Linked DNA regions of Homo sapiens. The protein of the gene in region 2 interacts with the protein of the main gene of each other region in a biochemical or structural test. Each region holds a gene or a part of one and is shown on either strand. Other genes may lie near its edges.

Region 1 (3,592 bases), on a different chromosome or scaffold from region 2:
ATATTGTTATGATCTCATTCAATATTGCCTCTTGGTCCTCAGTCAAGATTATTCTCGAATCCAGGGTGGTTGGACTACAATTTCCCAGCTTACACAGATATTAAGGTAAAATAAAGCAGTAAGTCAGCTGTTCTTGAGGGATGTAGTAGTTGATTCTGATTTTCAACATTTGCTTTTTATTTATCTGCCTAACAAGCATTGGCAACCTCCTGTTGTAGGTTTTGGTTGTACTTTTCCTTCATATTATATGTTATTATTCATAATTTTACTTCAGATTATTTGACTGTCTAAAATTTTCCTCCACAAGCTTAATGAAGATGGTGATCATTTTTTTTCTCACCACTGAATTCCAAGTGCCTAATATACTTTTTATTGATTAAGGAATTTTTAAAGAAGTGAAGAAATTAAGGCACTGGCTCTGTACCTGAGAAACTTAAAATAGAGATTGGGTGACAGTCATGTAAGTATATGATACAAAGCAGAATGAAATCAGTGCTAAAATGAAAGTATGCAAGCAAGTACTATAGGAGAACTGATAAAGAAACATTTTATTTCACTATATCAATGTAGCTATCAACTGTGTATTTCATTAAGCAACCCAAATACTGTCAATAAAATTTAGAAGTAGAATTTACTGATCTACTGCCATGCTAGAAATTAATAGAAGAGAAATAAACATTTTTTAAAGGAGGTAGTAAAATAAACCAGATGTTCTTAGTGCCTAAGCTACTTCCTGATTAATAAGTGAAAGTGTGTATTTACTAACTGGATCCTAGCCTTCTTTTTTTGTTTTTCCTAAATAAGCCATTTGAATTTAATAAGCTATTCCCACTGAAAGGGTTTGTCTTGGATGCTAGATTTCTAAGCTGCTTAATCCTACTGTGTTACTTGGTAAAGGCCAAATTTAAAGCACACAGTTACAAAGAACAGTTGAAAAATATATGTGATATTCTTTTTCATACTTTAATTTTCAAGATTGATTTTCTTAAGTAAATAAAGCCTTATGTTTTTGTTTTGATTCGATATGCTAGTTTATGATGATATTGATTAAGCCAGGCTCTCGGGTGGAATTCAAGACTTAAGAAATTCCCATGTTTCTGAATGCACAAATAAACATAATTTCATTTGTTAATCTTCTCAATCAAAAAAGATACTCTTAAGTAATTAACTTTAGGAACCAAAGAGAAAAGAAAAGCTGATACATGTGAGCATTAGCCCATTAACTTTAGGAACCCAGGTGCAAATAAACAACAACAACAACAAAAAGTGATACATGTAAATATTATCCACTTAGGTTTTTTTTTAACTTTTATTTTAGGTTCAGGGGTACATGTGGAGGTTTGTTTTATAGGTAAATTGCATACTCAATGTTTGTTCTCACTTATAAGTGAGAATATGCAGTGTTTGGCTTTCTGTTCTTGTGTTAGTTCACTTAGGTTAATGGCCTTCAGCTCCATCCATGTTGCTGCAAAGGACATGATCTTGTTCTTTTTTATGGCTGCATAGTATTCCATGGTGTATATGTACCACCCCAAAGAAATATACCATTTTCTTTATCCAGTCTGCCATTGATTACTTAGATTTTTAACATGCTCAATACATAGTTGTTATTGCTTATTAGTGTCCATACATTTTGTTGAAAAGACTCAAACAGCAGTTTTTGTTCATTAGAGTACACACATAGAGACCATTCTTGGGTTTGAGGCTCTTTTGAATGTTAGTTTACAGAAAAACCTTTTATTATTGGGACTTCTGACTTATGTACAGGAAATGACTTTTATGTACAATTTTAAGAGGACCTTTTTCTCTAAGTGACTTTCTCTCCTCTAATGTATATTGTAAAGTGTTCCTACTAGAGTTAGGTTTTGCCGTTTGTCCTTCTGATATAAGGAATATGCAAATGAGTATTTTGCAAAAAGTAGATCTATTGGAAGGTAAAATTGGTATGAAATTAGTGTTTGGTTTCCTTATGTATCCCTTGCAAACAAATCCTACTTGGGCATTTTTCAGCTATTAGGTGTCTAAAATGTATTAGTTAACACAAATGCTTTTCATAAATTAAACTCTCAAGGTATCCTATAGCTTTGAGAATGATTATAGCCAATTCACTGAAAACTTAGCTTCTCTTTATTGTGAGCCAAGTGTCTTTTATTTGCTGAATGAGCTGATATGTAGGTTTTTAGGATACATAAATCCCAGACCTAAGTACAAGCATGGTCCATACCACTGTTTACTTTTCTAGAAAGTTGTTAGACTAATTTTTCAACAAAAATTCTTTATTGTCTTGGTAACAAAAGAAGCATACTAAAAATTCTCAATAAGGCACAGTGTCTCTAGAAGCTTGAGCATTCAACATAAACTTCTAATTAACACGAACTTGTGCTCTTATTTCAGCCATTGCTGTGTGGGCTTGGAGCCAGGAGAAGATGCAGAGGAATTTTACAATGAATTACTTCCATCAGCTGCAGAAAATTTTCTAGTTTTGGGGAGACAATTACAAACATGTTTTATCAATGCAGCTAAGGTATGTGTTTATTTAGTCTTTTGTAGCTAAATCAGTTTAATTCTTAAGAAGCTGTTCTGTTATTTTTTAAATGTGCAATATTTGGCTGAAAGTACAATTAAAGTAGTGAATTTAAACATTTTCAAAGTTACAACCTTCCAAAAATCATCTCTATGTTTGAAAAATTTTTAATGCTGACTGAAGCTTGCCATTTGATTTTTTGAAGGATCTGCCTTGCTACTTTACTTGTTGGGCAGCACCCATAGACAATTATTTCCATAACATCTTTCTAAACATACTTTTTACTTAAATTAACAGTAGAGGAAAGTATGTTCTCTAGGGCTAGGGCTTTTCTAAGTAGCTCCAGTAGTGAAGAATAAAGGTGAACTTCCTATTTGATCTCTCATATCTTCTCCAGTCAAAATATTCAACCCAAACATAGGGGTCTTTTCAAGTATTTCTTGGTTGCATTATGCTAGATGCTATACATGTGCTCTTTTTTTGACCCAGGGATTTAGAAGTGTGTTGCTTAATTTCCAAATATTTGAAGATCTACTAGATACTTTATTGTTATCAATTTCTAATTTAATTATGTTTTGGTCAGATAACATTCTCTATATCATTTCAATCCTTTGGAATTTTTTCAGACTTGTTTTATGGCCCTCCGCATATGTTTTATCTTTGTGAATGTTCATTAAAAGAAACTTTTGTGGGCTGGGCGCAGTGGCTCACACCTGTAATCCCAGCAGTTTGGGAGGCCGAGGCGGGCGGATCACCTGAGGTTGGGAGTTTGAGACCAGCCTGACCAACATGGAGAAACCCTGTCTCTACTAAAAATGCAAAATTAGCCGGGCATGGTGGCACATGCCTATAATCCCAGCTACTTGGGAGGCTGAGGCAGGAGGATCACTTGAACCCAGGAGGCAGAGGTTGCAGTGAGCCAAGATAGTGCCATTGCTCTCCAGCCTGGGCAACAAGAGCAAAACTCCATCTGAAAAAAAAAAAAAAAAGAAAAGAAAAAGAAACCTTTGTTTTGCACAGTTCCATCTTAACTGAAACTCGTGCATGTCAGAACCATGCAAAGGTTTT
Region 2 (3,592 bases):
ATAAAAACATACACATTGTCCTGATCAGTATTATGTTACTTGCAATGGAGGTTAAAAAAAAACTGTAACAGTCAGGCATGGTGGCTCACGCCTGTAATCCCAGCACTCTGGGAGGCCGAGGCAGGCGGATCACGAGGTCAGGAGTTCGAGACCAGCCTGACCAATATGGTGAAACCCCGTCCCTACTAAAAATACAAAAGTTAGCCAGGCGTGGTGGCATGTGCCTGTAATCCCAGCTACCCAGGAGGCTGAGGCAGGAGAATTGCTTGAACCCGGGAGGTGGAGGTTGCAGTGAGCCAAAATCACGCCATTGCACTCCAGCTTGGGTGACAGAGTGAAACTCTGTCTCAAAAAAAAAAAAAAAAAACACCAGTAACATACCCACTGTTATTCAGTTACATTTGGATTTTAAGTTTGTTTGATTCTAGGTTTTTTCTTTTACAGTTCTTTGGTAATTATTTGTATTAAAGCAAAGTTACATTTTTGTAGATCTCATGTGCCACTGTGTTAAAACTTTGCTTAGTAAATTGTGAATTTTAAATCTGTGATAACTTTCACTGGAAAAATTTGAAACTTACTACAAATATATATTTTTTTTAATATCAGGCACAGTCTGATGAAAAGTCGCTCATTGCCAAGTTGCACCAACATAATGTCTCTCTTCAACTGAGTGAGGCTACTGCTCTTGGTAAGTTGGAGTCAATTACATCTAAACTGCAGAAGATGGAGGCCTACAACTTGCGCTTAGAGCAGAAACTTGATGAAAAAGAACAGGCTCTCTATTATGCTCGTTTGGAGGGAAGAAACAGAGCAAAACATCTGCGCCAAACAATTCAGTCTCTACGACGACAGTTTAGTGGAGCTTTACCCTTGGCACAACAGGAAAAGTTCTCCAAAACAATGATTCAACTACAAAATGACAAACTTAAGATAATGCAAGAAATGAAAAATTCTCAACAAGAACATAGAAATATGGAGAACAAAACATTGGAGATGGAATTAAAATTAAAGGGCCTGGAAGAGTTAATAAGCACTTTAAAGGATACCAAAGGAGCCCAAAAGGTAAACATTTAAACTTGATTTTTTTTTTTAAGAGACAGTATCTTGATCTGTTTCCCAGGCTGGAGTTCAGTGGTGCAAACATAGCTGGAACTCCTGGGCTCAAGGGACTCTCTAGCCTCAGCCTCCTGAGTAGTTGTAGCTGGCAGTACAGGTGCACACCACCATACCTACCTAATTTTTTAAAATTTTTAAATTTTTTTGTAGAGACAAGGTCTCACTTTGTCACCCAGGCTGGCCTTGAACTCCTGGCTTCAAGTAATCCTCCTGCTTTGGTCTCTCAAAAGTGCTGAGATTACAGGCATGAGCCACTGTGCCCAGCCAATTTTAAATTCATTATCTTCAAAAGAGTTACATGATAATTTCTTAATATATGCCTATATGAAAAATGCTTAAGATACAAATTCCAATTATGATTCATTAATTTAGATTTTATAACTTAGCAGTGTTGGCTATTTGAATGTCTATTATACGTAAAAATAAAATTAGGCTTTTCTAACCAAAGATTTTAGTGGGAATGTTCAGATTGTATAATAGCAAAGAATTTTAATTACTATAGGAAAATTTATATTAATTAAACACTAATTATTATATTTAAACATTGTAGTAGTTATCAGTTGATTTCTACTGTTCATAATTATCTTTGATCTACAAGTAGTGGGCCCACATTTACTTTTAATATGGTTTAATCTTCATTTAGAAAGAATTAAATGAAAAATAATTATCTTGCAACTACATCCTGTTCTCTAGGCTAGAAACATTTAGGATTTCTGTTTTTGAAAGTAATACCAAAGTTCCAATGACCTGCTTATAGTCAGTGTTCAATAAACGTATAACAAATGAAAGTGAATATTAGTGATGTCCATTCCAACATAATTTGAAGATTTTTATTGTAAAATCCCACATATTTGTAGAAAAGTCTATGGAAATCCTAAATAAGATTTTGTCATGTAGTTTGACAAAAGATAACATTGTGTCTTATTTTATTTTAGAATGGCCATTACTTTCAATTAAAATCATTATCATCAATGGAGGAATGTTATTTGTTAATATAGCATTTATATTTGTGTATATAAATTGTAAATCTTAGGTAATCAACTGGCATATGAAAATAGAAGAACTTCGTCTTCAAGAACTTAAACTAAATCGGGAATTAGTCAAGGATAAAGAAGAAATAAAATATTTGAATAACATAATTTCTGAATATGAACGTACAATCAGCAGTCTTGAAGAAGAAATTGTGCAACAGAACAAGGTTTTATTTTATATTTATTTCATTTTTTTCCCTAAGTTTTTTTTTTTTTTTTTTTTTTTTGAGATGGAGTCTCACTCTGTCGCCCAGACTGGAGTGCAGTGGCGTGATCTCGGCTCACTGCAAGCTCTGCCTCCCGGGTTCATGCCATTCTCCTGCCTCAGCCTCCCAAGTAGCTGGGACTACAGGCACCCGCCACCGTGCCTGGCTAATTTTTTGTATTTTTAGTAGAGACGGGGTTTCACCATATTAGCCAGGATGGTCTTGATCTCCTGACCTCATGATCCGCCCGCCTCGGCCTCCCAAAGTGCTGGGATTACAGGCGTGAGCCCCTAAGATTTTAAACAAGAATATTGCACAAATGACTATGTTATCCTTCTAATTAAGTGCACCTTCCATTACTAATTGATTATATAATAATTTGTTTTTTATTTTCTAAACTATTCTAAAAATTCATATTTATTTAGCTTTTATAACAGTAGTCTTAATCTTAAAAACGGCAATACATAAGCAACCTCATTTGGTAAGTTAATTTTTATTTTGATATTGGTTATTTGACTTTTCACAGTTCCACGTTTCTACTGGCTCTCACTGATAGAGTAAGAAGTCAGCTTCTTATAGAATAAAGTATATACTTCAGAGACAGATGAAATTCGTCAAACATATGACTGTCTCAGAGATTGTTCCCCCTGCTTAAATTGTTCTTACCCTAGATACCTTTGGTATTTACACTGTCAGTGCCTGCAGGTCTTAGCTCAAATGTCTTACCTTATCAGTGTATCCTTCACCAGCCACCTAATATACAACAGTAAATCCTACTATCCAGATTCCTAAATAGAGATTAATTAACTTAATTTTTCTCCAAAGTGCTTGTAACCTTCTGACGTATTACATACTTACTGGTTTATTATTGACTGTCTTTCCTTCGCCAGAATGCAAGTTCCGTGGTGACACGGACTTGGTTTTGTTTACTGCCATGTTTGTATTTCCTAGAATGATGCTTGGCACATAATATATGTCATCAAATATCTTTCGTATAGCTGAACGGATGGATGGATGGATGGATGGATGGATGGATAGACTGAAATCCTTACTTCACATCTGCCTTTGTGATCTTACACAAGTTACTTCACCTCTCTGAGTTTGTATTTTTTTCCATAAAAGGAAAATAATTACAGTTTCTTCAATGTGTTGTGAGGATTAGATAAGAAAATATATATAAAATGCCTGTTATGTGCCTGATGTCTTCGTGTATGTGTCTGACACAAATTGTCCTTTTTT

What was found. Proteins that work in one complex are often made in the same cells at the same time.
Region 1: the proteins of CEP290 (region 2) and IQCB1 interact in far-western blotting, tested with the Homo sapiens proteins (one study listed by IntAct).

What each region holds. Positions count from the first base shown.
Region 1 is NC_000003.12:121,824,983-121,828,574, reverse strand, and holds part of IQCB1 (IQ calmodulin-binding motif-containing protein 1), read left to right. Parts: coding exon 1-105; intron 106-2,394; coding exon 2,395-2,524; intron 2,525-3,592. UniProt on the Homo sapiens protein: Involved in ciliogenesis. The function in an early step in cilia formation depends on its association with CEP290/NPHP6.
Region 2 is NC_000012.12:88,086,502-88,090,093, reverse strand, and holds part of CEP290 (centrosomal protein of 290 kDa), read left to right. Parts: intron 1-606; coding exon 607-1,062; intron 1,063-2,149; coding exon 2,150-2,314; intron 2,315-3,592. UniProt on the Homo sapiens protein: Involved in early and late steps in cilia formation. Its association with CCP110 is required for inhibition of primary cilia formation by CCP110.